2 separate regions of the Homo sapiens genome follow, and region 2 is linked to region 1. The links come from fine-mapping of genetic effects on gene expression. A gene starts in region 1. The other region holds a variant in brackets. All regions are shown on one strand. Distances are between the middles of the regions. Region 1 holds the start of LINC00632 (long intergenic non-protein coding RNA 632). Region 2 overlaps LINC00632 (long intergenic non-protein coding RNA 632).

What was found. PIP is the estimated chance that this variant, and not a neighbour inherited with it, causes the effect.
Region 2: its variant is fine-mapped to the expression of LINC00632 in tibial nerve (GTEx, PIP above 0.99). The same link has a PIP of 0.9 or more in subcutaneous fat.

Annotation. Positions count from the first base shown.
Region 1 is chrX:140,702,396-140,718,312 of GRCh38, forward strand. LINC00632 (long intergenic non-protein coding RNA 632) reads left to right here and starts at 7,364. Exons shown (of 5, transcript NR_173140.2): 1 at 7,364-7,410; 2 at 9,226-9,261.
Region 2 is chrX:140,766,102-140,782,018 of GRCh38, forward strand. It overlaps LINC00632 (long intergenic non-protein coding RNA 632), which reads left to right. Exons shown (of 5, transcript NR_173140.2): 4 at 5,977-6,257. Among named protein-coding and RNA genes, the nearest start is that of LINC00632, 64 kb to the left of the region's middle. The variant A/G (reference allele first, on the strand shown) is at 6,559.

The sequences.
Region 1 (15,917 bases):
GCGCCTGTAGTCCCAGCTACTCAGGAGGCTGAGGTTGGTGGATCTCTTGAGCCTAGGAGGTTGATGTTGCAGTGAGTGGAGATCATGCCACTGCACTCCAGACTGGGTGACAGAGGGAGACCCTTTCTCTGAAAAAAAACAAAAACAAAAACAAAAACAAACAAACAAAAAAAAACAATGAAGTTTGCCACATTTATTGGCTCCTCCTTTCACAAGAGATTTCTTTGTACAATGTGATGTTATTTGATCGCATTTTACCCACAGCAAAACTTTTTTCATGGCTCATGCCTATAATCCAGCACTTCGGGAGGCCAAGGTAGGCGGATCATGAGGTCAGGAGTTCAAGACCAGCCTGGCCAATATGGTGAAACACTGTCTCTACTGAAAATACAAAACTTAGCCGGGTGCAGTGGTGAGTGCCTGTAATCCCAGCTACTCAGGATGCTGAGGCAGGAGAATTGCTTGAATCCGGGAGGCGGAAGTTTCAGTGAGCCAAGATTGCGCCACTGCACTCCAGCCTGGGTGACAGAGCAAGATTCCATCTCGAAAAAAACAAACAAACAAACCAAAAAAACTTCTTTCAAGATTTGAGTCAATCCTCTGAAACCATGCTGCTGCTTTATCAACTAAGTTTATGGAATATTTTAAATCCTTTGTAATAATGTCAATAATATTCACAGCATCTTCTCCAGGAGAAGATACTATCTCAAGAAACCACTTTCTTTACTCATCTGTAAGAAGCAACTCCTCATCCATTCAAGATTTATCATGAGATTGCAACAATTCAGTTACATCTTCAGGCTCTACTTCTAATTCTAGTTCTCTTGTTATTTCCACCACGTCTACAGGTAACTCCTCTACTGATGTATTGAGCCTCTCAAAGTTATTCATGAGGATTGGAATCAAGTTCTTCCAAACCCGTGTTAATATGTTGATATTCTCCTCCCATGAATCACATGGATCACAAATGTTCTCTTTTTTTTTTTTTTTTTTTTTTTGAGACTGAGTCTTGCTCTATCGCCCAGGCTGGAGTGCAGTGGCACAATCTTGGCTCACTGCAACCTCCGCCTCCCAGGTTCAGGCGATTCTTGTGCTTCAGGCTCCCGAGTAGCTGGGATTACAGGCGTGCACCACCACGCCCAGCTAATTTTTGTATTTTTTAATAGAGATGGGGTTTCACCATGTTGGCGGGGCTGGTCTCAAACTCCTGACCTCAATTGATCTGCCCGCCTTGGCCTCCCAAAGTGTTGGGATTACAGGCGTGAGCCACCGTGCCCAGCCACAAATGTTCTTAATAGCATGAATCACAAGTGTTGATAATGGCTTCTAGAATGGTGATTTATTTCCAGAAGGTTTTCAATTGACTTTGCTCAGATTCATCAAAGGATAACTATCTATGGCATCTATAAACTTATGAAATTTATTTCTTAAATTATGAGACTTGAAAGTCAAAGTTACTTCTTGATCCATGGGCTGCAAAATGGATATTGTGTTAGCAGGCATGAACACAACATTCATCTCCTTGGACACCTTCATCAGAGCTCTTGGGTGGATAGGTGCATTGTCATTGAGCAGCAATATTTTGAAAAGAATCTTATTTTTTCTGAGCAGTGTGTTTCAATAGTCGGCTTAAAATATTCAGTAAACTATGCTGTAAATAGACGTGATGTCATCCAGGCTTTGTTTTTCCATTTACAGAGCACAGGCAGAGTGGATGTGGCATAATTCTTCAGAGCCCTAGGGTTATCAGAATGGTAAATGAGCATTGGCTTCAACTTAAAGTCACCAGCTGCATTAATCCCTAACAAGAGATCCAGTCTGTCATTTCAAGATTTGAAGCCAGGTATTGATTTATTCTACCTATTAAAGTCCCAGATGACATCTTCTCTTAATAGAAGGTTGTTACGTCTACACTGAAAATGTGTTCTTCAGTGTAGCTACTTTCATCAATGATCTTAGCTAGATCTTCTGGATAACTTGCTACAGCTTCTCCATCAGCACTTGCTGCTTCACCTTGCACTTTTATGCTATAGAGACTGCTTCTTTCCTTAAACTTGTGAACCAACCTTTGCTACCTTCAAATTTTCCTTCTACAGCTTCCTCACCTCTTAGGAGACGAAGGCTAGGGCCTTCACAGAATTGAAGAGAATTAGGGCCTTGCTCTGGATTAGGATTTGGCTTAAAGGAATATTGTGGCTAGTTTGATCTATCCGGACCACTCAAACTTTGTCTATATCAACAATAAGGCTGTTTCGCTTTCTTATCTTTCGTGTATTGACTGGAGTAGCACTTTTAATTTCCTTCAAGAGTGTTTCCTTTGTATTCACTATTTGGCTGTTTGGTGCCAGAGCCTTTGCTCTCAGCCTGTCTCGGCTTTTCACATGCCCTTTTCACTAATCTTATTCATTTTTAGCTTTAGATTTAGAGTGAGAGATGTGGGAGGACTCTTTCACTCGAACATTTAAAGGTCGTTGTTGGATTATTAATTGGCCTAATTTCATTATTGTTTTGTCTCAGGGAATAGGAAATCTAGAAGAGAGAGAGAGAGATGGGAAAACAGCAGGGTGGTAGAGCAGTCAGAACACACACAACATTGATCAATTAAGTTCCCCCCTTTATTTGTTTTTTTGAGATGGAGTCTCACTCTGTTGCCCAGGCTGGAGTGCAGTGGCACGATCTCAGCTCACTACAACCTCTGCCTTCCAGGTTCAAGCAATTCTCCTGCCTCAGCCTTCTGAGTAGCTGAGATTATAGGCACGCAACACCATGCCCAACTATTTTTTTTTTTTTTTTTTTTTTTTGTATTTTAGTAGAGACGGGATTTCACCATGTTGGCCAGTCTGGTCTCGAACTCCTGACCCCATGATCTGTCCGCCTTGGCCTCCCAAAGTGCTGGGTCCTGACCTCATGATCCGCCTGCCTCAGCCTCCCAAAGTGCTGGGATTACAGGTGTGAGCCACCGCACCTGGCCTAAGTTCCCCTTTTATATGGGCACAGTTTATGGCGCCCCCAAATAATTACAATAGTAACATCGAAGATCACTAATCACAGATCATCATAACAGATATAATGATAATGAAAAAGTTTGAAATATAGCAAGAATTACCAAAATGTGACAGAGACACCAAGTGAGCACATGTTGGAAAAATGGCACCAATAGCCTTGCTAGATGCAGAGTTGCCACAAACATTAAATTTGTAAAAAATGCAAGATTTACAAAGTGCAATAAAGTGATGTGTAACAAAATGAGGTATGTCTATATGGTATTATTTAGGGAATAATGACACAGAAAAAAAGTCTATACATGTCCAGTGCAGATGGATTTTTAAAAAATATTTTCAATTTTGAATTCACAGATGAAGAACTCGTGGATATGGAAGACCAGTTGTGTTCATCCTCCATCTGGTCAGTATGGAAAGTTCTTTCTCTAACTTAGGAATTACAAACCTGATTATCATTAATTTCAAAATGTATATGAATTTTAACTTTAAATATAATTATTGTGCAATAATTCTTTTTCTGAAAGTATTTTCCTCTTTATTTTCTAAATTTACCTTTTAATAATTTTTTTCTTTTTCTTTCTTTTTTCTTTTTCTTTTTTGAGGTGAGGTCTCACTCTGTCGCCCAGGCTGGAGTGCAGTGGCACGATCTCAGCTCACTGCAACCTCTGCCTCTCATGTTCAGGCGATTCTCCCACTTCAGCCTCCTCAATAGCAGGCACGTGCCTGCCACCATGCCCAGCTAATTTTGTTGTTCTTTTGTTTTTGAGACAGAGTCTCGCTCTGTCGCCCAGTCTGGAGTGCAGTGGCTCGATCTTGGCTCACTGCAACCTCCGCCTCCTGGGTGCAAGCAATTCTCCTGTCTCAGCCTCCCAAGTAGCTGGGACTACAGGCGCACACCACCACACCCAGCTAATTTTTGTATTTTTTAGTAGAGATGAGGTGTCACCATATCAGTCAGGCTGGTCTCGAACTCCTGACCTCAGGTCATGCACCTGCCTCAGCCTCCCAAAGTGCTGGAATTATCGGTGTAAGCCACCGTGCCTGGCCCTAATTTTTGTATTTTTAGTAGAGATGGAGTTTTACCATGTTGGCCAGACTGGTCTTGAACTCCTAACCTCAGGTGATCCGTCTGCCTCTGCCTCCCAAAGTGCTGGGATTACAGACATAAGCCACCGCGCCAGGCCATTAATTTTTTTTTTCATTTAAAATACTTCAAGCCTACAGAAAAGCTCAAAAAATAACACAGTGAACACCTGTGTATACTTGACCTAGATTTACCAATGATTAACCTATTGCTACATTGCATTTGGTAGTTGTATCTTTTTAATCTTCATTAATCTAGGATAGTTTCCCTGCCCTCCCACTTTTTAAAAATAGTTTGATGGTTCAGGCCAGCTGTCTTCTAGATTGTTCCACAATCTGGATTTAATGATTGATTCTTCAGATAAAATATTTTTGGCTAGTACTTAAATAGATGACGTGTGCTTCCCATTTCATCACATCAAAAGGCACATTTCAGTTTGTGCTATTATTGGTGACATGAAGTTTAATCAGTTAAGGCAGGGGTATTCCAAATCACTCCATTGAAAATGCACATTTTTCTCTTTTATATTTAATTAGTAGCCTATGGGCAATACTTAAAAGTCCTGTGAATATTCTCTTCCCCGGTGTTTTGCCTAATGGTTTTGGTATGCATTGACGATTCTTGCCTAAACCTGTTATTATACTGATGGTTTCTTTTCTTTTCTTTTCTTTTTTTCTTTTTTTTTTTTCTTCGGAGACGGAGTCCCTCTCTGTCACCCAGGCTGGAGTGTAGTGGCGCGATCTCAGCTCACTGCAACCTCTGCCTCCAGAGTTCAAGCAATTCTCCTGCCTCAGCCTCTCGAGTAGCTGGGATTACAGGCACCTGCCACCATGACTAGCTAATTTTTGTATTTTTAGTAGAGACGAAGTTTCACCATGTTGGCCAGGCTGGTCTCGAACTCCTGACCTCAGGAGATCCACCTGTGTCGGCCTCCCAAAGTGCTGGGATTACAGGCAAAGTGCTGGGATTACAGGCATGAGCCACCGTGCCCGGCCTATACTGAAGGTTTCTAAATGGTCAGTTACAAATTCTGTCATTCCTTACAAATATATCTCCTTTTAGAAAAAAGCAGTTTCTTTTCTTTTCTGTTATTCTTTTAGAACAAAGCAGTTACCCTCTCCATTACCACTTTTTCTTTTTTACTATCACTGTGGACTCACGGATTTTTTTATTCTATGTTTTATAGTCAACGACCATTATTATTCCTTTTGATGATCAAATTGTACCAGAGTTAGCCAGTGAGAGCCCTTTCAAGACATCTCCTGTGTCTTTTTGATGTGTTCTCATCATTCTTCAAGTGCTTTTTGGCTTATAATACAAGATACTTCAAGTTCACTTGTATTTTTCCTGCCCCATGTATAGCGTCAGCTATTTTTCCAGTAAACCTTGGTTTCTTTTAGTAGACAACAGTATTTAGAAACTAATACCTGGGCATTAGATGTACTCATTGCTGCTGGTGTGTCATATTAATTGCTACTGGAGTGTCATTGCCTCCTTTCTGTGGACAGACCTAGTAAGATTTGTCTTAGGAAATCATGAGTTCATACTAAAAATTCCGATTCAAATCCGTCACCAAAGGTTTCTTTAGGATTCTCTTCACTTTCTCAGATTCATATTTGTATCTCCTTTCTCCTATAGTGAGAACTCTGGTTCCAAAAATACCCCCAAAAAATGCATTTACTCGTTTGTTCTAACCATGCAGAATATACACACGTGGTGTGTGTGTGTGTGTGTGTGTGTGTGTGTGTATGTATGTATGTGTCATAGTTTTAGAATTTACTTCTCCAATAACATTACCAATAATACAGATTATATTTAAGTTTTCTGGTCAGAACCAAATGATGACGTTTGTTAAAAATACAGATTTCTGGGCTTGTCCCTAGCCTGCCAAAACAGAATACTTGGGAATAGGTCCCTTTAGTCCTCATTTTAAAAAATTAACACTCCAGGTGATTTAGAAGAACTCTGATGTTTGTGATTCAATGATGTGATGAGGAGCTTGAGCTTTAAGTAAGAAAGGTTGGTATCCTCGTTCTGTTACTTAGTCTTTTCAGGTTCATCACCTGGTACTTAGAAAAGTGCCTGACCTATAATAAATACATAATAAAGGTACTGATCTTTTTTTATTATAAGGTACTGAACTGGATTGCCACATATTTCCTATCTGGCAGAAATTAAATTAGTTTTAAAAGCAGTTTATGTAATGATGTAATGTTGAAAAGTTGTTCTGAAGTGAATACATTTGTGAAAATAGAAGTAAAAATTTTCTAAAAGCTACACTGTAAAGATAAGTGTGCATGATCAGTTGAGATGTACGAATATATGTTTGTATATTTTAACATTATATATGTGTTTCTTTACTTCTTCCACCCATCGGGAGTCCAGTATTTTGGGGCAGATTATGTAACAATTCTAATGATAACGTTACCCAAAACTGATGAAAAAAAGAATAACTTCGACAAAATACTTCTATTTTGCAGCCTGTGCATATTATTACCTTATGAACTTATAAAGGGAGGATGGACTATTTTTTATTCACTTTTATAATCCCTGTCCCCACCACCATATTTTGACTGTGGTATTACAGGAATACCTCATTTTGTTGCACGACACGTATTTGTGGAGTGAATGAATCGTTCTTTCTCTCTTTTTTATTGTAGGAAAAATATGTAACAAAAAATTTCCACTTGATTTTAACTGTACAGTTTGGTAGCATTGAGCACATTCATATTAGAACAGGGTTCTACCGACAGCATTGTACCAAGTGAGGGAACCAAAAAATTTTCTGCTTTTCATTGTGGAATGTCATTTGAATCAGAAATCTTCTGGGGACTTTGTTATTTGAATTTCTAACTTTCCTTATTACTTGCCTGGGAGAAAACACATATTGAACAACAAAATGGTAATGTTCATCCTCAGAGACTAGACCTTGTCAATGTTCTCTGATGCCTAGTAGGACCACTGCAGGAAAAAAAAAAAAGTTAATGAGACTGTTGCTAGGAGACGGGAGAGCCAAAAGCTCATAGTCTTGTAGGGGTTCCTCTGGAAATCAAGGCAACTTAAGTGTGTTTTGGATTAGAGGTTTAGCTATTAAAATCTGCCCTTTGAAGAGCATGCACATTTTAGCATATAATGTTTAGTATGATTTCATGTTTTTGGAGAATTTTTGAGGATAATCTCAAGGCATTTCATTTCTTTCCATAGGGATAATCCCTTTTTTTCAGAGTACATCTCATTTCCAAGTGGCTGTTGCGCTGCTGTTTGCCCCCACTCCTTCAGTGCGACAGACAGCCTCAGAGCTGGTGGGGAGACAGCATGCCACTGGTAAGTAGCTGAGAAATATTTTGTAAAATAGATATCCAGACTAAGATTTTTAAAGCAAGCGACATGTTTTGAGGGAATAGAATAATGCAAAATTGTGTAGGAATCTCTGATTCTAATCAGCAGCATTGGGAAATGGATTAATTAAATTCTAAATATTCCCTGGTCATTTTTCTAGTTTAAAGCTTGTTTCTTAAATGATGGAGTTGCTAGGAGGCAATATAGAAACTTTCCCCTTGTGATTCTTGTAAAATATTTCCTAAAATAAGATTTAATGAAGATGTTACTAAATTGGAGAATTGCTTTCAGAATTGTACCTCAGCTTTACGATATTTGTATTTGACGTGATGAAATGGGTTATGATTCAAGATGTTCTCAAACCTGGTTTATTTTCTCAGTGCTGGGAGAGCATAAGAAAAATATTACTTTGCAATGCAGAAAAGGATACGATGCCTCATTTTTTTAAATTAAGAAAGTCGTGTGACGGGATGTCTGTACTAGAGAGAAAATGAGGAAGAGGGCAGTTTGTAATAATGTTCAGATTGATTGCTTCATGTGAGATATGAAAGTGTATTCAATGAGAAACATTAAAATTTGACTTTAGGATGAAAAAATCATGAAAAAGTAATAATGAATATTATGATCGTGCTTTCATTGGAAAAAATTAATTTGTATTTTTGGACAGCGATTTATACAGTAAAGACAAGAGTGTTCTCGGTGCTTCTTTTTTTGAAAAGGGATGTGAGATGGATAGCAGAGATTCTTATCAACGAAGCTTTAATGTTTGTTTCTGAAACATTCCTGAAAACAGAGCTTTTGTAGCTCTGTTTCTGCAAGAAAAACGAAAAAAAAAAGTGAAGTGGTGGTTTATTCCTTTGAAATTCAAACTGGCCCTTGAACGTGAGGAAAAGAAAAATGATAGATAAATAGATTTCGTTTTTGAGTTAGATGACAAAGCAGCAGCAATCAAGGAGGAAAAATAAGAATGAAAAAGCTTAAAAGAAAGTCCTCAAGATGGGCCATTTTCCCAAGTTGAACATGTCTGCTGGTAGCATGTTTTGCAGAGGGAAAGGGAGAGAACATACTGGAGGCAAAGGGAGGGGGTGTTGAACAGAGCACTGCGGCAAAGAGAGTGACTGACGCATCCAGGGACATGTGACCATTCTCTGGTGTAGCGAAGAAAATTTGCCAGGACTCCATCTTGTATAAGACATTCTATACATACTGACATGCAAATAATGCTATAATCTTTCTGTAGTACATAATGAGCTCGTTTTGCGTGATCCTCCACTGGTGTATATTGGTATTTTGTCTTTGCTTCTACGCCTTCCTCTCTGTGCTTCCAGTGCTTTTATACACTTACTAAAATATTAAAAATGATGTTTTCCCCTTTATTATAAAAATATCATAGTCATTGTAGTAAATTTTGAATAATGTAAAGATGATTATAAAAATTACCCATAATCCCGTAACTTAGAGATAATTACTATTAATCTTATTACTGTCAGTCTCTTTTCTCTGAATATATGCAAATAAATGCATAGAAATATATATTTTATACAAAATGAAGATCACATGTACATACAATTTTTAGCCTGTTTGATCCATTAAATATATATTGGGAGCAATTCCCCATATTTTAAAATATTCCACAAGAATGTGGTGTTTTGTGGATGTATAATTTTCTATCATATAGATGTCCCACTAAATGTCCAATTATTGAATGTTTATATGTGCATTATTTTTGCTGTTATAAATAACTGAAGGAATATCTTTCCATATAAATATCTGTGTGCTTTTCTGGTTTTTTCTCCCTAGGAAAAATTCGTAGACATGGAATTCCTGGATCAAATGGTATGAAACAATTTAAGGTTTCTTCCCCCCAACACCTATCACCTAATTTATTTATTATATGTGGTATAAACATTATTTTCCAGCCATTGTTTTCCTATTAATTTTTACCATTTATGGTGGTGATTTTTTGATATTTTACAGTTTTACATGTTAGATTTCCATATCTGACCATTTTAAGTGTTGTGATTTTTTTCTTTCCTTTGATTAGTGTATTCACCTGTATTTTTTTCTAGTTATTTAATTGCTTCATTTTTTACAATTAACTCCTTAATCCACCTAGAATTCATTTTGATATATGGTATACAGTAGGATTTAATTTTTTTTCCCCCTAATAGGTCACCGATTGTTTCAGCATCACTTATTGAATAATCCAACGCAACAACTGTTCTTCCATTAGATAGGGTGTAGCTTTCCACAGGTCGGCCATTTTCTCTTTACCCAAGATGGTTACATTTTGCAATGGTACTCCTACCTTCCTGCAGCTTCTGACAGCATACTAGAGCACCATGTTTGTGCTTGTGCGTTTCAAAAATCCTAGGCACATGCAGATTAGGGCAGTATTTTAAACAGGATTTTTTTTTTCATTTTAAATATGTTAAGTTTGTCACATTCTTGTTGCAAATTAAAATTAAGGAATCCAAATATATGAAACCACGGTTTCAGGTGTGCTATTCCTCTTAGGCGCACCTGATATCCCAATTGTGTGTTAAAAAAAAAAATACCCCCGGGGTTAAAGTTCCTCCTTCAACCTCTTTTTTTTTTTTTTTTTTACTCTTCAGATACTCAAAGAGTTAAAGTTGGCTCGACTCAGTTCTTGGAATTTTCTAGAATGATATAAGAGGGAAATACAAGAAATGTATGAGGAGTAGAAGTAAATAATGTTTGCCAGCCTGTTGCTGGCCGTAGTCTCATGTAGGGATTTAAAGGAGCTAGGGTGAGTCCTAACCCATGCCACCACTGCCACTACCTCTTCTAGATAGGGACACACCCCAGTGAGCCACCTCTTTTCACTGCAGGTGTAAGGCTCAAGACATAAGGCAAGGAGTTTTTTAGTAGGAGATGGGTTAAATATTGCCCAGAGAAATCTGACAATTAAAATCACTTGCTACCTATTACCAACCCTCTCCCGGGCCCCCAACGAAGCTTTCTCTCTCTATTGACTTCTGCACCGGGCCTCTTAGCTTTACTGATTCTGGGGGGGAAAAAAAAGGGCGGGGGGAGGATGGCGCGTGAGTGGGAGGCTGCCTTGCCTGCGGTTATTGCAAGGGGCTCCTTTGGCTCACAGCCTCAGTCCCAGTAGTTTCCTGACTTGCCGCATTAGACTGTGTTTTGTTTATGAGGAGGCTGGTTTCCCTGGCAATGGCAGCTCGCCAGTGCATGCGCATTTGCTCCACTGCAGTAGCAGAATGCGGCTGTGGGGCCAGGGGAGGGGTCCTGAGGGCCGCAGTGGCTGGAGTTATTTGGCAGACATGACGTCAGTTTTTCTGAGCTAAACTGCCATCGTTACTGTATATGGAGCATTTTTTTTTTTTTAAATAAAGCTTGGAAGGCTTTTAGCCACTCCTTTTCTTTCCTCCCAAATTAACTGCTCTCTATATGCTCACCAGTGACCACGAAGGCTTTCTAAGGTTTGAGGCCACCGATGCCCTCAGGGCCCCGAGGGGAATCATAATAGTATGAGAACAGGAAACAGACTGCCTGGTTTCAGACCTCGGCTGCTTGCTAGTTGCATGACTGTGGGACGGGTTACTTAAATCTCTTCGTTTCCTCAGATGTAAAATGGGGATGCTAACAGCATGTTTAGAACAGTGTCTGGCACATAGTAACCATTATGTAAGTGTTGTCTATTATTATTTGTAGATACTAAGGGGGACTTGCCTGGAAGCAGACTTGTGTCCGCAGTATACAAACTCACCCTTTAATGCACACACTGACCAGATAACACAAACACATTTACCCCCACAGCACCTAGACTCTTCTCACAGTACACACACTTGCCTTCCAGTACACAGACATATCCAAAGGCACACCGACAAGCACCACAGCAAAAAGATGTTCCCCAGAACACATGGACACCCCAATCCCCGTATCATTAGACTCTCCCAGAGGCACGTATGTACTGCTTAATGCAGAGACTCACCTGAGGCACACTGATGCACCCCGCATGACACAGACTTGCCCCCCCATAAGGACTCTACTATGACACACAGACAATCCCAACATCACACACTGTTCCCACATCACACGAACCCATTTTAGGAAACACACAGCATACAGACTTACCCCATAGAACACGGCTTCCCCGACAAGCACACATACTCTCAAGGCCAGTAGACTCACCCCACAGCACACAGACTTTCTCTAGAGTGTACAGCTTCTTCCCACAGCAAACAGACTCTCCCCAGGGCACACAGACACCCCTGACATCACATACTCTCACCACAGACCATAGACTCGTCCTAGAGCACAGGGACTCTTGCCAATGAAACAGACTTTCCCGAGAATAGACTCATGAGACAGCTTGAAGACCCGCATCATGACACAAAGACTCTCCCACAACAGACAGACTCACCCCATTGTGTACAGACAAGCACCATAGGCCACAGACCATCACCTCAGGACACAGACTTGCCCAGCACCACACAGACACTCTGCAGAGCACGTAGAGTCACCCCGCAAAGCACAGACTAAACCCATACTACAGAGACTCTCCCTATAGCTTTCAGACAAGTTTACCCCACCACAGAGACATGCAACGGTACATCTTACAACATATATCACTCCTTGATGCACACAATTGTGCCACAGCACACAAACTTGTCCTACAGTGCACAAATTCATGTCACAAAAGACACACTCACCACACAATACAAATACTTGCTCCAGCCGGACGCGGTGGCTCACGCCTGTTATCCCAGCACTTTGGGAGGCCTAGGCAGGTGGATCACCTGACGTTGGGAGTTCGAGACCAGTCTCACCAACATGGAGAAACCCCGTCTCCACTAAAAATACAAAATTAGCCGGGCATGGTGGTGCATGCCTGTAATCTCAGCTGCTCCGGAGGCTGAGGCAGGAGAATCGCTTGAACCCAAGAGGCGGAGGTTGCAGTGAGCCAAGATTGTGCCACTGCACTCCAGCCTGGGCAACAAGGGCAAAACTTTGCCTCAAAAAAAATAAAAAAATAAAAAAAAAAACAACCCAGCAACAAAAACAAACAAAAAAAAACAATTACTTGCTCCAGAGTTCACTCATTTGCCCTAAAATATCTAGACCTTACCCCAGAGTTACCACACAATGCATGCTGTGTCCCTGCATCACCAAAATACAACTCAAACTCCTCAGACACACTCTGATAAATAGACATACCTGACAATGTACAGCTTGGCATCATAGCAGGAAAAACTGGCTCTACAACAGATTTATTCTACAACAGACACACTCAGGCTGTAGAGACACCTAATCTTTCTTTAAGGTATTCAGACCCACCCTTTTGGGCACAGTCACAGATGTGATCCAGGATACCCTCACCCATCCCACAATACTGATGCAACCCACAGCGTACAAACACATCCCACAGCATAACACTCTAAGCCCACAGTGCTCAGAAATGTCAGGCACACATTTGCCATACAGATTTACTTCACACACAAAAAACACAGCCAGGTGGGTGGCTCATGCCTGTAATCCCAGCACTTTGGGAGTCCGAGGCGGGCGGATCACAAGGTCAGGGGTTCAGGACCAGCCTGTCCAACATGGTGAAACCCCGTCTCTACTAAAAATACAAAAAAATTAGCCGGGCATGGTGGCACATGCTTGTAGTCCCAGCTACTCGGGAGGCTGAGGCAGGAGAATCACTTGAACCCAGGAGGTGGAGGTTGCAGTGAGCCGAGATCATGCCATTGCACTCCACCTTGGGCAACAGAGTGAGACTTCGTCTAAAAAAAAAAGAAAGAAAGAAAGAAACAAACAAGAAAACAACAACAAAAAACACTTCTTATAGTGCCTATACAATGCAAACATGTATCCCAAAATATATGAAACTATTTGCTATGTCACTCTTAGGTTTACCCCAAAGCACATAGACCGTTTTCACTGCTCAAGCTGCTGCCTACAAAACAGGAGATGCCAAGCCATGCACAGAAATTCACCAAAATGCACAGATTCACCTATCAATATACATACTTGCCTCACAACTCACACAAACACCACCGAGCACTGAGACTCACCCTAAATGTACAGACAAGCCCTTCAGGGCACAGACTTACTCTGTAACATACTAAATCACATCCCCCATACTTAGATGTGCCTTATGATTCACAGTGATGCGTGTAAACACATAGATTGCTTCCACAATGCACAGAATTGCATCATAACACAGACTTACTCTACAGTGCAAAACTGACAGTGCACATAAACATTTCCCAGTCGGCTAGACACACAACACACATATTACTCCTACAATGTAAAGATTTCCATCACGGTGGACAGACGTGCTTTTCCATGCTGTTGAGCTACAACTCTGGCCTACAACAACAGAAATACAGCTTGTGTAATAGTTACCAGCAAGGCCTCTAGACCCATACTAACTGGGTTTGAATCAAGGTCCCGTCCCTTGCTGATTGTATCACCTTGGGTAAGTATATTTCTTTGTTCTTTAGTTTGTGCAACTGTAAAACAAAGATAAGAGTAGTGCCTACTTCAAAGAGTTGTTGTGAGTAATAAATACGTTAAGATTTGTTAAGTGCTTAGTACAGTGCCTGGTACATAGTGACTATTAGAATTGTTAATGTATATTACAACCATCACTATCATTACTACCAAAACAAAAAAGGCCTACCCCAGATATCTAGAATCATCTGACAACAAGAAGGCTCACCATATAATATATAGATTAGCCCTAGAACGTCTAGAAACACTCGACAGCACACAGACACCCCGCCATAGTACCCACATACCCTACAGACCAGAACCCTAACCAGATATCACTCACAACACACAGAATTGCATCACTAGTAACAAATTTGTGCACAGGCTTGCTCTATAACACATCCCACAATACCCAGACTGGAAGCCAGGCTGTGTGTTGTACCCAACCTCACCCCACAAGGCACAGGCCCACAACATACACACACACACACACACACACACACACACACACAGACACACACACATCCTAACCTCATAGATATGCCCTACATCATACAAACACACCCTATCACACATATTTTTGTTTCACAACATGTGGATACCCCTGCTCTTCACAAACATGTTCCTAAATACATGCTCCTAAAATTGGCAGCATCACATGATAACACAGAGCCCCCATTCCACAACATTTTTTTTTTTGAGACGGTGTCTCACTCTGTTGCCCAGGCTGGAGTGCAGTGGCGCAATCTCGGCTCACTGCAGCCTCCGCCTCCCAGGTTCAAGCAATTCTCCTGCCTCAGCCTCCCGAGTAGCTGGGAATACAGGCGCGTCCATGCCTGGCTAATTTTTTTGTATTTTTAGTAGAGACAGGGTTTCATCATGTTGGCCAGGATGGTCTTGATCTCCTGACCCCGTGATCCACCTGCCTCAGGCTCCCAAAGTGCTGGGATAACAGGCGTGAGCGACCGCCCCTGGCCACAACGCATTTTACACTTACCTCATGCTTGTCCCATAAAGAACTACATGCCCCACATCGCCTAAGTTGCCCATAAATCTGACTTACCGAACACTGCCACACGTATGACCAGGCCCCATACCACACAGATTTGCTCTGTAATACCTAGATAAGTCCTAACATGCAGAGATCACCCCTAAACACAAAACCATCCCAACTGCACAGCGTCATATCACAACAGACACACACACTCATCCCATAACATGCAGACTTGCACGAAAACACCCAGACTCCCACAAAGCAAACCCACGCCCACAATGCTAATACCACACAACGCCCAGACTGGCACAAGACAAAGACTAGCCTCAACTCATCTAGTCTCAACCCACATGATATAAAACTTGCTCTACAATGGTTAAAAGCTTATATTCAGGTCTCAGACTGTCTGAGTTCCAATCCCACATGCATCACTTACTAGTTGTGTGACCTCGGAAAGGTTTCTTGAACTCTCTGTGCCCCAGTTTTCTCAGCTACTTGTTAGGAATAATAATGTAATAGGGGTACTTACCTCTTATAGCTGTTAAGAGAAATAAATGGGCTGGGCGTGGTGGGTCACACCTGTAATTCCAGCACTTTGGGAGGCCGAGACGGGTGGATTAGCTGAGGTCGGGAGTTCGAGACCAGCCTGACCAACATGGAGAAACCCCATCTTTACTAAAAATACAAAATTAGCCGGGTGTGGTGGCACACACCTGTAATCCCAGCTACTTGGGAGGCCGAGGCAGGAGAATCGCTTGAACCTGGGAGGCAGAGGTTGCGGTGAGCCAAGATCATGCCATTGCACTTCAGCCTGGGCAACAAGAGCGAAACTCCGTCTCAAAGAAAAAAAAAGAGGAATAAATGAGTTAATGCCTATAAAGTGTTTAGAGCAATGCTTGGTAAAGAGTCAGCGTTATTGGTGTTACCTGATCAGGTTGTCATTGTTGTCATTACTCCACACGAAATTGGACCATAAAGGTAAGACTCAATCTAAAACAACTCGAATCAACCCACA
Region 2 (15,917 bases), 64 kb after region 1:
AAAGGTGGGCAGAACGGTCATTGTCGGCATCGCCAAACGGGGGTCACGGCAGATCCCCTTAGCTGTTGGATTTCTTATAGGCCTGGTTTAGCTGTTCCACGCTGTAGCCAGCAGAGGGCACTGTTGCTACATAGAATCTTTTTTGACTGTTTTTGGTGGTGAATTTTCAGAGCTATTTAAAAAACTTCCATCCAGTAAGAAGTATGAACGATTTTCCATGAAATTTTAATGTGAAAAATAGATTATTATTAAAAACTGATGGATGTCTATTTGGTTGTTAACCCATTGAACCATAGAAAGAGAGTGAAGATGTTCCATAACAATCAAAGATTAAAATAGCAAGAACAAAAAATAAATGTGATAATAAATATCAGCATCATATCCCTCAATTGTTTCGAACATAAGTAGTTAGGGCTTTTGCTCATAGGGATGATACTTAAATTTTCAAATGAAGAAAGTTGATTTGTGAATTTATATTACTCATTTGGAAGAATGAAAACTGGGATATGCATGGTCATGTGATCTTATAATGTACAATTCAGTTTTCTACATAGAAGTCTCCAGTAAAATATGCTTCTACGTGCAGTGGGAATTTAAAAATTAACAATGTAAAAGATGTATAATTAATTATCATAAATGAAATAACAAAGAAAGAATGTGTATGATTCTGAGTAGGATTAGAATTGAAATCTGTTCGTTATGTTTAGGTAATATTTGTAGAAATTTAATGGAAGAGTTGTATCGATACTAATTTATTTCTTACCGTTTTGATAGGAATATGTGGAACAAAAAGAAAATTCATATTGTAGAAACTTAGACTCACATTTTGTGTTAGAACCTATGAGCTACTCTGGGTGTTTTATTTTAAGATGGTTTTTGCTCATTGTTATGCTACAGGTATTATCATACATCTTTTCTAAAGGTGGAGGCCTTCTTTTTTATTTAACCAGAAGTTTCTTGTGTTAGGATGATTTTGAGCAGTTAAGAATTGCAAGAAAAAATCTTAACATCATTAGTTTCAAGTGCATTGTAATGGATGAGTGTGTCATCTAGAGCAAGATTGCATAGCTGTACATTTTGGGCTTTCCTGCTTAATAAATGTGTGACCTCAGACAGATTATGTAACTTGTCTGAGCTTCAATTTCCTCATCTATAAAATAATAATAATAATGCCTAACACATAGGGTTGTATTAAATATTAAGTGAGTTAATATATGTAAAGCAGCTAGAACAGTGCCTGGCCCAGAAAAATTCACTTTATTAGTGTTATTTACCTATTATTTTTTTCCATTTTTGTTAATAATATTTGAACATGATGCATTAATTTCCCCTTAGTTTATTGTTTAGCTCTAGAGCTGCTTAGATTCATTTGCATATAATATTGCTTATTTAATTTTAAAGAAGTGGTTCTATGCACATTTAGTAACTTACGCCTCTTAAACATTGGCTATGCAAGAGAATTCTTGAATAATTTCATGAAGCACTCTTTGTCTCTTACTCAGAGTAGAATATTTTGAAGACATCTTTTCTCTGAAGTTTTTAGACAAGCTATAAACTAGTTTGTATTAGTCAGAGTTCTCCAGTGAGACAGAACCAATGGGATAGCTAGCTAGATAGATAGATAGAGGAGAGGGGATTTATTAGAGAAATTTGTTCATGTGGTTATGGAGGATGAGAAGGCCAAGACTGAGGGACTGACAATTGGCAAGGGCTTTCTTGCTGTGTCATCCCATGGCAAAGGAGAGAGAGGCCAAACTTGCCCTTTTGTAAGGAATCCATTCCCATGAAATGCCATTCCCATGAATGGCATTAATCTATTCATGACGGTGGAGCCTAACCACCTCTTAAAGATCTCACCTCTTAATACTGTTACAGTGGCAATTACGTTTCAACATGAGTTTTGGAGGAGACAGACATTCAAACCATAACGCAGCTCCATGACAGAATTTTCACATGCTCCAGAATGTGAATGACAGCTACTCATTTTAAGGGAAAACAGCTTAGTTTAGTGTAAAAAACATGGATATTGGAGTCTGGAGCTTGGACGCTAGCTGTGTGACTTTGGACATGCCACATGTCATCTTTGAGCTTCTGCTTTTTCAAATACAAGGATGTTGTAAGGCCAAAATATGATCAGGTTGTAAAGGGTTTGCCACATACTGAGTGCTCACATCAAAACATATTAGTTCCATTTCCTTGACCTTACTCCCTTTCTCCTTTGATAATGCTTCATTCAAGGGTAGATCGAAGACCTCAGGACCAAGGAGGAAATGAAATGTTAAGAAGATTTGACTGTAACAAAAGGGTTAGTGTTAACACATCCATTCTGTACCTATACAATAGAAGTGCAATAGTAATCTTAGAAGCTGTGAAAGAGCACTGCTGCTTCCTCTCTCTGGGCCTCTGAATTAATCAATGATGTAATATATATAACACATATAATATATATACTATATTATATATTTATTATATATACTATATTATATATTTATTATATATAAATATATATTTATCACATAATAAATATATATACTATATAATATATTTATTATATATAATAAATCTATAATAAATATACATACTATATAATATATTTATTATATAATAAATATATATTTAATTAAATATATAATTAAATATATAACATATTTATCATATATAATAAAATATATTATATATATTTGTATATGTATAGATTAGTGTATAAGTATATATATTTGTATATATTATATATATATTTGTACTAATATACATACACAAATACATATTAGTATAGGACCTAGTTACTGCCTCTAAGGCTTCATGTCTTTCTGATGGTCATATAATGGAATGAATGGGACTTGAGTTGGATGATGAGATTCCATAGATAGAAAGGAAAGAGGGAGCATTCCAACTAGAAGGAATGGTGTGAGGAGAGGTACAAATGTGATTTTGGTCAGGAGCCAATAAGTAAACTAGTCTTTCCAGAGAACCTTTCTTGGGGAAGGTGCCTTGTAGTGCCCACAAATGCAGGAAGCAAGAATTAGGACAAGGTCACCGATGGTCAGTTCAGAAGGCTTATTGAGTAAGCACAACACAGCAGAGGTACTGTTTGGGGAATAAAAAGCTGGTGGCTATGAGGGTGGACTTGGTTATGGCAAAGTTAGTCAGGAAACTATTTTAACAGTCTGGGGCCAGATCATGGAGGGCCTCATAGGCCCCAATTGCTCCTTCATCTACATTTGCTTCAGCTTTTACATCTTTCTAGACCAGTCCTGTTGTTTTACAGCTGTCTTCCATTTCAGTCTTAGATTCTGTCTTCTATTTGCAAGTGGCAATTCTAAAATCCCATTTGATTTCCATAGCATCTAATAAAATTCGGTTTTTTCTCCACCCCACCCCCCCCATGAAAGCAAATTTTCCATACATTTTGTATGCCAAAACCTAGTAACAAGGAAGAATAGGTCAGATTAATCCTAAATATCTGCTGTTTTATTCACTGCAAACATAAACCCTTTCGTTAATATCAAGACAGCTAAACAACTCCACCTCATCTAAGAAATCTGGCATCTGAAGCCCTTTATGATTTGCCTCAACAAATCTTTTACAGTTTTATTTTTACTGCCCACTTCAGCCGTCCTTTGTTTCAGCTTCATCCCTCATCTAATTCCACGCGTACCCAGCAATTTCGTGCCTCCGCCTTTGTCCCTTCCACCTGCTTGCCTTCTCCTCCACACCCTAAAAATTCTACCCATTCTTCAAGGTCCCATTCAAATGCTACTCCTTTTGAGAGCATTGCATGCTGGTCTTACTTTCTGTACTATAAACATTTATGCTATAAAATGAGGACCTATTCTATTCCAGTTACCGTCAAGGCATTCCCAAATGATTAAAACACAGGGAAACAGATGGCACTATAGTGAAATATCCTAAGTGCTGTAATCAGAGTAGGCATTGGAGGAAGGCTCTGAGAGTTTCCATCATCAATTCAAAGCCAGCAGGAGGGATCAGGGAAAGCTTCCTGGAAGAGGTGGCATCAGAGGCGTTTGAACCAGAGTGACTCCATCTTGAGTAGGGGCTGGGTAAAATAAGGCTGAGACCTACTGGGCTGCATTCCCAGGAGGTTAAGGCATTCTTAATCACAGGATGAGATAGGAGGTCAGCACAAGATACAGGTCACAAAGACCTTGCTGATAAAACAGCATGTGGTAAAGAAGCCGGCCAGAACTCACCAAAACCAATATGGCGATGAAAGTGACCTCTGGTCGTCCTCACTGCTCATTGTATGCTAATTATAATGCCCACCAAGCACCTGGATTTAAAAATTGGTAACTATTTAGCCAGGTGTGGTGGCTCACGCCTATAATCACAGCTACTTCGGAGGCTGAGGCAGTTGCAGTGAGCCAAGATCACGCCACTGCACTCCAGCCTGGGCGACAGAGTGAGACTCCATCTCAAAACAACAACATAAAAATTGTTAACATTTTTCCATAAAATAAATTACTGATAACATTGTATATCTATTTGCTTCAGTTCCTCCCTCGACAAAACATATATTTATTTATGTTACCACAGTTCCATTACTGCACCCAATAGAATCAACAGCAGTGGCCGAATGTCATCTAACAGCCTACTCATGCTCCGATTCCCTCAGTTCTTCCAAAACTATGAGTGACTATTTATTTATTAATTATTAGTGAAGCGTTATCAGAAGATCTGAGATCCGAGAACTTGGTACTGTTGTTCACTTGATATGAGTCGTAGTATGGATTGGTAGACGAACAAAACTTAAGACAACAAAATAGATAGTAATTATTTATTTGAAAACATTTTCCTCTCAAAGCTACACTAACCCAAAGAAACTGCGGGATCAACTAAGATCAGCTTGAGGACTCAACCTGGTTACCCAGGAGTTATGGCACTACCAGAAACTCTCAGGCTCTAGAGAGAAAAAAGACTACTGGGAGAGAACTCCAGACACTTGTGGATGGATAGTCAGATGTTTATTCCAACACCATTTTTTGAGTAGTCCATCCTTTCCTTAATGTTCGGAAATACTACCAGACAACTGTAAAAATATTAAAAATGAATAAGTGAACATATTTGTATTATCTTATTGGGGGAAAGACTTTTCAAAGCAAGGCAGAAACAGTTGACTACATAAATACTTGAAGCAACTTTATGGCAAAAGACAAAAGCAATAAAATTCGAAAGTAAATGACATGCTCGGAAAAAATATTTGCAATATAGAGAGGATTAAAAATAAGTTCTCTAAAATGTTAACAGTACCTATAAATCAGTAAGAAAAAAATATAACGTGGAAAAAGGATAAGAACAAGTATTTAAAGAGGAAAGGTGATGAAAGAAATCAATTAAAACAAAAATTAGATACCTTGTGATTTACCTTCTAATTGATACAAGTCACAAATGTTGATTATGTGTCATGTTGGTAAGTACATGAGAGGAAAGAACTGTCATTTGCTTTTAGCATACAAATTGGTACAACCTTTGCAAGGGCAATTTGGCATATATACACACACACACACACACACACACACACACACATACATATATGTGTGTGTGTGTATATATATATATATATATATTTTTTTTTTTTGAGACGGAATCTTACTCTGTCACCCAGGCTGGAGTGCAGTGGTGTGATCTCGGCTCACTGCAACCTCTGCCCCCTGGGTTCAAGTGATTCTCCTGCCTCAGCCTCCCAAGTAGCTGGGATTATAGGCATGTGCCACCATGCCCAGCTAATTTTTTTGCATTTTTAGTAGAGACGGGGTTTCGCCACATTGGCCAGGCTGGTCTCAAACTCCTGACCTCGTGATCCCCCTGCCTCAGCCACCCAAAGTGCCGGGATTACAGGCGTGAGCCACCATGCCCGGCCCTGGCATATATTTTTATTACTCCAAATTTATAAGCTACTCATTTAGATTGCCTCTGTTCCTGACCTCATTTCCTATTTTTATGTTTGCTTTTTCCTAGATGGTGTGCTTCTCACCTCAGCGTGATAGCCTGACCTTGACTCCTGAGTTCCACGATCGCTTCACAACTGCAAGTCACCATCATACAAAATTTGAGTTTCCCTAAGTCCGCGCCTTTGAGAGCTTTGGAACGATATGCAAGTTCAAGTCACCATCCTGTTTCTTGCTACCTCCTGTGAGAAGACCAACATTTGGGTTACACTTGTTTCTACTCTTGTTCTTCTGCTTGTTATTGTTGCCTCTGCAGCCATTGATCACACACGTGTTGTCATACAAAAACTGGTTAGCCTTTTTATTTGTCTTGTGAATTTTATCATTTGGTTCTTAAGTATTACAAATTAATATTGTGTACTCTCATTGATATACAACTTGCAGTCATTGTAAATATGCGTGAGTTAGGGGTGAGAATGGCATGCAAGCAAAAGAACAAGGAGAGGGATGATAGAGATGCAAGAAGAGTAAAGAGGGCAAGAAAGTTTATGTTAATAGCGAACACAATGAAAGTTCTTTAAATGCTTGATAATGGTGAAAGCAACACTTCCTAGGGCATATTTTTGGTGTTAATGAACCTACACATCATACA[A/G]TAAAGAAAATTGAGAAAGCAGTTGGGGCCAGTGAATCGGGGGCACACAAGAATCACTGAGAAAATCATACACAACTCAAAATGCCACAATAGGGAAAATATAAAGAGATTTGCACTTGTGGCTTCTAAAACAGAGAAGGTTGAATAGGTCTCTTTCTGTGTGTAAAATCTGCCAGTGAGCATCACAAAAATGCAAATTTAAATTTCAATCTGGATGGAAAGTTATAAAATTCATTGCAAGTAATGGGTGGTTGGGTAGGTTTAAGAAATGCCAGGTGGGTGGATCACTTGAGGTCTGGAGTTTGCAACTAGCCTGGCCAACATGGTGAAACCTTGTCTCTACTAAAAATACAAAAATTAGCCAGGATTGGTGGCGGGTACCTGTAATCTCAGCTACTCAGGAGGCTGAGGCAGGAGAATCGCTTGAACCTAGGAGGCAGAGGTTGCAGTGAGCTGAGATCGTGCCATCGCACTCCAGCCTGGGTGACGAGAGCAAAGCTCTGTCTCAAAAAAAGAAAAGAAGAGAAGAGAAAAGAGAAGAGAAGAAAGAAGAGAAGAGAAGAGAAGAGAAGCTGTGGCCTGTAATGAAAAGAAGTGGAGAAGTGACTGTCAGAGGAAGCAGATTAAGGAGCTGCCGGAGAGTATCCTGAATACCTGAAGAAGACGATTGAGGACAATGGCAATTTGCCTGAGCAGGTTGTCAGTGCTGCTGAAACTCTGGAAGCAAATGCCTACTTGCACATCTATTGCAAAGCATGAGAAAAGGACCAGAGGCTTCAAGCCTGGAAAAGACAAACTCAAAGTTCTGCTTTGTTCCAGTGTGTTCTGATTAAACCCATGTTGCTTTACAGATTCCAAAATTGTTACCTTCTTTAAAGAGAAAGCCAGAAACACTTTTCTGTGTACATGAAGGGAAACCATGAAATATGGATCACTGAGAAACTCTTTTTGAACTGGTCTTTGAAGTGTTTTGTTCTGAGGTTAAATAACATTTAAATGAAAAAAAAATCTTGACTTCACAGTGTTGTGATTCTGGACACTGCTCCTACAGACAAAAATGCAGTCATAAATGCTGCTCCTTGTGTTCAAGTCATCTCCATTACCCCCAGTACGACTCCACTCCTTCAACTCTTGCATCTGAGAGTGCTAGCGATGTACTGTGCTCTGCATGTATTTTGACTACCTGAAGATCTTATCAGAGACACCAGAACTTTACCATGAAAGTGGCTTGGCAACATTTCTCCGTTTGTAATGCTTTAACAGGTGTAGAAGAATCAGTGAGACAAATAAAACAATCAATACTTAATGAAGTCTGGCAGAAATTTTGGAATGAGGTTGTGACTGATTTGGAAGGTTTCCTTCCAGTGGTAGAAGAAATTGAAAATATTGTAACATCTGCAAACCATTTGAATAGTGAAGGCCTTGAAGACATTGAGTTAAGTGACATTACTGAATTGTTAGACTCTCACCTTCAAAAGATAGTTGAGAAATATTTTGGAGATGTGATCACATCAAAAGGCAATAGAAGAAGCCAGCATAGGTTAACATCCAGAACTCTAAGAATGTTCAAGTATCTACTCCACAAATGAAATTGTCACAATGATTCAAAAGAAAGAGATCCTTTGGTGGGCTACATATTGACTTTCAGGTAAGGCTTAGATGATTACTTACAATCCTATAAAGCAGTAGTAATAAACTTCCAAACAAACACCGATAAGTATTTTCTCTCTGCTTACTTGACAGGGGAGAAGAGGTTGACATTAGGCCATGTCATTCAAACCCGTTCTGCAAACAGGAAAACAGGAAGTAGAAACGCCGCACACAGATAGTTAAACCTTGGGATTCAGACTCTGATGGCTCTGATGATATGGTGATTTGTGTGCTGGGGATGAAAGAGGAGCAGAAGACTGAGCTTACATCTCTTCAGACGAAATGCAATTTTCTCTATTCTTTCCCTGTTACTATTGTTACGACCAAGCATTTTCATTGATCCATTATCATCTTCATCTTGAGATCACAAAGGAAGTTAATTGCCTGATATCCACTCTTGTTAATATAAAATATCAATGATATTTATTTTATTGTTTTAGTTTGGTGAACAAACTGATTGTCTAGGCTTTCATAATACTCATGTCCTTGCCTCATTTTTTCCTAAAAAGTCTTAAATTCCTCCAACATGGGTACTCTGAGAGTTTCGGGAACTCAACTATAGCATTTAAGGAGTGGGCTGCTACTGTACTTGGCTGGATAATTTGATTTTGTACTCCTGAAATTTGTTTTAATTCTGATTAAGCCTAACTTGCGATCTCACCAGAAAGGATTAGTTTGGTATAAGTTAAATTAATTTCTTTTCCAGCAATTGTATATGTTAGCTATTGGCTGATCCTGAAAAGCAGTATATTTATGTTAAATTTCCAGATTTCCTTTGGTAGCTAATCAAGGAGGAACAGCTGCTAGAGTTCATTTTCATAGATTCTTTCTGTTCTCATATCTGGCCTCCTCAGTGATTTGAAGAATTGAATATCCTCCAAAAAATGGATATTATTACCTCCTGTTCTCTGATGGTGATGGAGACTTCATTCTCAGATTGTTTTTAAATTCCTTTCATAATTCCATATATTTACTTCATTTGATTCAATTGTGTTACAAAAGTTATTGTCATGGTTGTTTTAATTTTGGATGTTTGGAATTTTCCAGGCAGATTTAACAGAGGAAAAAAAACCACAAAGCCAGAGATACGACGCTGTTATCTTGTTCTAAGAATTTTGGGCAAAGGCATAGGCTGAACCTGCCTGTTCTTTTGGCTGCTTTACACATTCCCAACTGATGTCCATTTTGAACTCAGTTGGACAGTTATTCTGGGGAATAGAGAGGAAGTCCAAATAACATCGCTGTTGTTTCTGTCTTAATTGCTGTTTGTGCCGGATTCACAGCACTGGCCTCATCATTATATCTGATAATGATGCACAGAAAACCTGAATAGAGAAAAGAAGAAAGATAATTCATTGGCATGTGCTTGCCAAAAAGAGACTTTATATAACTTGAGAAAGCATAAAGACAACCTGGAATGAGGAAATGTATGTACAGTAATGAAAAAAAAATGCTTTAAACAGCTGTGTCAAAAACTGACATCAGAGAGTAAATTGAATTTGGTTTTGTAGGAAGCAGGAAGCAAGCCCACTCAAACGTTGAAATTTGGCATGAGGGAGTCCAGTAACTTTCTCCTCAATCTGTGAACTATATGTGAGTTTGATATTTTGAAGGAAAAGGAAAAAAAAAAGTTTAAAAGGGCTTCTGCACAGCAAATGAAACTAGCATCAGAATGAACAGGCAACCAAAAGAATGGGAGAAAAATTTTGCAATCTACCCATCTGACAAAGGTCTAATATCCAGAATCTGCAAGGAACTTCAACAAATTTACAAGAAAAAACAACCCCATCAAAAAGTGGGCAAATGATATGAACAGACACTTCTCAAAAGAAGACACTTACGCAGCCAACAAACATGAAAAAAAGCTCATCATCACTGATCATTAGAGAAATGCCAATCAAAACCACAATGAGAGCCAGACTGGGATCCGGTGCGGAGAGCCCCTCATCCTGGAAAATTGGCCTCGGCCAGAAAGGCAGCCACCCCCTCGCCCATCATGCATAACACGTTCGTGAAGAACCTGGCGCTAAACCATTCCTAGGCAACCTGTTTCTGGGTCAGGGTTTCGTGAGTAGCAGAGCAGATTCCTCGTTGCCATCTATTGAAAGTGAGCCCTCCACACAAGGGTTTGTCTGCCTGCGTGCTCAGGGGGCCGTTGGACCCGCGCGTCCGGCGCTGTCCCTCTTCCTTCCTTCCTCCCGCCACCCGCCGGGGTCCTCGTTACCCAAGCCCGCGCGTGACCACCCACTCCGGGGGTGTCGCGCGCTGGCCTGTCCGCATCCGCCGCGCGTTAGGCCAGTCAGGATGGCGATTATTAAAAAGTCAGGAAAGGATAGATGCCGGAGAGGATGTGGAGAATAGGAACGTTTTTACACTGTCGGTGGGAGTGTAAATTAGTTTAACCACTGTGGAAGACAGTGTGGCGATTCCTCAAGGATCTAGAACCAGAAATACCATTTGACCCAGCAATCCCATTACTAGGTATATACCCAAAAGATTATAGATTATTCTATTATAAAGACATGCACACATATGTTTGTTGCAGCACTATTTACAATAGCAAAGACTTGGAACCAACCCGAATGCCCATCAATGATAGACTGGATAAAGAAAATGTGGCACATATACAACATGGAATATACTGCAGCCATAAAAATGAATTGAGATCATGCCCTTTGTGGGTACATGGATGAAGCTGGAAGCCATCATTCTCAGCAAACTAACACAGGAACAGAGAACCAAACACCACATGTTCTTACTCATAAGTGGGAGTTGAACAATGAGGACACATGGACACTGGGAGGGGAACAACACACACAGGGGCCTGTTGGGGGGTGGGGGGCAAGGGGAGGGAGAGCATTAGGACAAATACCTAATGCATACGGGGCTTAAAACCTAGATGAAGGGTTGATGGGTGCAGCGAACCACCATGGCACATGTATACCTATGTAACAAACCTGCACGTTCTGCACATGTATCTTGGAACTTAATAATAATTTTAAAAAGGGCTTGCTTGCATGGTTATGGTTGAGACTACAGATATTCTTCAACACGCTCAAATGAGGAAGATGAGGGTTGAAAACCCATTGTAGGATGCTGTGGATCTAGGATTCGCCACAGTTCCAGGAGAGCTTACGCTCTTGATCTAAACCACAGTTGTTCTCAACACTGACTGTGTATCAGAGTAATGATAGAAAGCGTTGAAAAATATAGATTTCCAGGAACTGCACAAAGACCTGCTGAATCAGGGATAGGGCCAGAATCTGTATATTTCAAAATTTCCTTCAGCGTTTCTTTATATAGCCATGGTTTTCAAACTGCCGCTCTAAAGCTAGGGAAAATTATGATAGAAAATATAAATGGTAGTGGGCCCAGGAACTAGGAAACCTTGATTCAAAGTGTTTGTTCTGCCACTAGTTCAATGAATGGTCTTATTCAAGTCACTCCTGCCTTTGTCTTTCAAATGAGAGAATAAGACCACTTGGTGTCTAAAGTCTTTCTATCTCTGACATTACCTTGAGAGAAAGGTGCATCAACCACAATGGTTGATTTTGAGAATATCTAAACTTTTTCATAGAGACCAAAGTAAATAGGATTATTATTGCATTGTGTAATTGTGCTCATGGTTCAAGTTTTACCATGTTTTAGTCCCTCCCAGAAAAGGAAGTAGGGCATAATGCCATAGAAACAAGGCAAATATAAACACCAACTCTCTGAAAGGAAAGAGAGGCAGTACCTACTGGGAGTTTCTTTTTCTATGATAATTGTTTTTATTTCCCCTCTGGGTTATAGGTTTTGGGAAAAATAATGCACAGATATTGTGTGTAAAATGCTAATATTTTGTATCTATTGTTTCCATAAACCAAAACAGAGAACCCTGTATGGTGAATGCTTTAAGTTTTCATAGGTCATTTGCTTCTTCTTAGTCACATCTACAGGTAAATATTTTTAAATCAATGATCTTTTCCTCAGTATAATCAGTGGTTCTATATGACTTTAAAGAATGAGCTGTTTTGGCTGGGCGTGGTGGCTCACGCCTGTAATCCCAGCACTTTGGGAGGCCGAGGCGGGCAGATCACGAGGTCAAGAGATCGAGACCATCCTGGCCAACATGGTGAAACCCCATCTCTACTAAAAATATAAAAATTAGCTGGGCGTGGTGGTGCATGCCTGTAACTCCAGCTACTGGTAAGTCTGAGGCAGGAGAATCACTTAAACCTGGGAGGCGGAGGTTGCAGTGAGCCAAGATCGCACCACTGCACTCCAGCCTGGCAACAGGATGAGACTCTGTCTAAACAAACAAACAAAGAAAAAAAAAAAAAAAAAGAACTGTTTTGATAATTTTACCATTTACTGAGATTACTACCTTGGCCATTTTTTTATTTATTTTGACCAGAATTAGAGAAATAAAAGGTTAAATTGAATTGCATCAACTAGGAACTCTTAATATAAATAATAAAATGAGAAATTGACTATTATATGATCTTAGTTGTCATAGAAATACTTTGACTTTGGCTTGATGTATGGAAACATTTATCTAGGGCCCAGGTCATTTGAAATAAAATATTGAGATAAATCTAATTATTGTTTAAGACAATATCCAGTTAAAACAACCTAAGAAGTATCACTGATGAGAGTCAAAGAACATTTTACTGTGGTTGAGTTGAACAGGTCAGCAAAACTTGTAGGAGGATGAGAAAGTTTGATATACGCTAAAGGTAGAAATAGAAGTTAATGACAACACTGCCATGTAAATGGGTGTTTTTTTCTTCTTTAAGAAAAGCCCCCCAAATATCAAAGCTGAGGTTTCTTTTAGTATGTTTTATGCACAGTTTGAGTGGAGAGAACCTGTTGTCAAATGGCTTGGGTAAATTCTTGAGCTCAGTATTACAAAGTGCATGGAAATTTCGTTCTTTATAGACATGTTTAACCACTGTGGCAAAAAGAAAAAAAAGGAGGGGTGGGGAGAAAGGGCAGCCCAGGCTGATGAGATGTGAAGAATATGTTAGGAAACTTGTATTACATTTAAAAAGAACTTTTTGTTTAAAATCTTTTAAGTTCAAAATGCAGAGAAAGCTCTTTAAATTACACATTTGGATTACATAGCTTCTACCACCCGAATGCTAATAAAGGGTTTTGACAGTATATATAGTCTAAAAGCTTGCGTGAACAAGGTTTATGATGTGAAATGCATTGATTACTGAACTTTACATAGTATTATTACCTTTTAATGGCCTTTGATGTCAGTGTGTTATGGTTGCTTAAGAATTCAGAAATATGATGTACTATGAACAGAGTGTATATATTACTGGGAAGTATAAAATCAAATAGAAAATAGATGAAAGAATTAGTATCATTAGCATAAATAACAAATATTGAGAAATTAAGTATGAATCTATTGTGTTTGAGACACTGCATTTCATCTTTCTTGCATTGCTACGTAAAGCCAAAGATATAATTAACTCATCTTTGCAAACACCTAGAATTGGTTCTTGACTACTTGGCAGTGGTATGGTGAGTGTCACAATGATAAGAAAATGGGACTTAAAGTGAGATCTTTGCCACTGACTTCTTGTCTGCTCTGGGCTGGGGGCACCCTCTTTTTGGGTGAGTGGTGCTTAGTCCTGGCAGTACAACCCCTGGGTTATTGGGTTGTGGAGAATCAGCACGGAGGCAAGGTTTTGTAATCACACGGATCTGCTTTCAAATCCTGCCTCTACCAATTACCAGCTGTGTGACTGTGGGCATATTTCTTAACCATTCCAGACTTCAGTTTCTGATCTGTAAAATGCAGTCAAAATACCTGCATTATAGGATTGCTATAAGATTATATGAAATGCTTAGTACAGTGCCTGGCACATAGTAAGCGCTCAATAAATTGTTGTGATTATTATTATTATTATAACATGAATAAGCATTATGCAACCAGAATATGAGAGTTTGCGCCTATCTTTGCAAAATTTTCACACTTTGATACTTAATTTCCCTCAAATTAAGGTATGCATGATGGTTTTAAGATGAGAGAAGGAAGTTTAAAAATGAGTTTTAGTATTTCTTTTTGTTTGCTGATGAGGGATACATGAAACAATAATTTCCTTGTCTGTAAGTTACTCCCTGATCTGCAGTGATTCTTTATGCTATAATGTGGTTATCATTACTGACATTTATTTGTGTAGTGACTAGAGGTAATCTCAGTTTTGGACATGGATGAGTTCTTATTCTCTAGAAAATAATCCATCCACTTGTTTCCACTTTAAAGAAAATTAGGTAACTGTGATATAGGGGTAAAGATAAAGCTAAATAGGGCCTGCTTTGCTTGACCACCAAAATATTAGCTCAGCTGCCTTTTGAGAGAATTTGTGTAAGTCTACGTAATCTTACTAGGCAAGGAAAATTCCTCACAGCTGGCTTCTGAACTTCTTTGAATTTCATGTATTCTATGATGGCATTCAAGAAGTTTAAAATAGTGTTATTCAGAATCCTAAGTATTCATCATAACTGATGCTGTGTCTGCTGAGTGACAGAAACGTCACTGCCTTAATTCTAGCCCCCACTACCACTTACCTGCATAACTGTATTAGCCTCACATCCCAACCCTTTAAGTGTTTTAGCTTGGGGTATTAGGTGTTCTACTGTACGTATCTAGTAGTCTTTGCTATTCAGCACCTTGCTGCTCAACTGGCTTTCCTTATGTACGGTTCTGATTCCAATACCTCCTGGTTCATAGACGTTTAATAACCACCCATTGTCTATATATTCCACTACTTGATCTTTAAATCATGCATGGCCTAGTTCCAGTGTACTTTCCCAGTTTTGTATGCCAGTGTTCTCTTTCATGTAATACATGTGATAGTTCCTGACTTCCTCAGCTTTATCTAAGTACTAAGGGCCTTCAGCGCATAGCTCAAGTCTAATCCCTGAAGCTTGTCACTTAAGGTCTTTGTCACTTAAGAAATTACATGTATTACCTGAAGCCAGGGTGCCTGAGAAGAGCCTACCAAGCTATAATCTTTTTCCTGTTCCCCTCCATATATGTCCAGTCTGTAGGGGTGGGTTTCTTCTCTAATTTACTTAAGCTTCCAGCCTATTTAATTAAATTAGGACATCCTCATTGATCCTCAGCCCTGTTGGTTGGGCCCCTGAATGCAACCCATTTAATTTTGGCTCTGAATACAAGGCTCCCTGTTTGGGCAATTGTCCAAACAATTGCCTAGAGATCTAAATTCTTAGGTTCTTGCCAGTTTCATCTCCTATCATTACAGCACATGATATTGTTATTTACCATTCGGCTTCAATTTTCTCTGCTTGTTCTCTATGTGAGAACAAGTTCTCTTGTTCTCTGCTTGTTCTCATATGTGAATGCTAGCCTGGAATGTACTTAACTTTACCATATCCTTGATTTGGCGTTAGAGCAGGGCATAGCAAACTAAGGCCCTTGGGCCAATGCAGCCCAACCATTTTTTTTAAGTAAAGTTTTAATGCAGCACAGCCATCCCCATTCATTTACTTACTGTCTGTGACTGCACTACAATGGGAGAGTTGAGTAGTTGCAACAGAGACAATGTAACCTGTAAAGCCTTAAATATTTACTTCTGAACCTTTACAGAAAATGTTTGTTGATCCCTGATCTAAAGCCAAGCAGTTCTCTCGACCTAGATACTGCTTATTCTTTGATAATTTCCCATTCCCATCTTGTTAACCAATAAGGC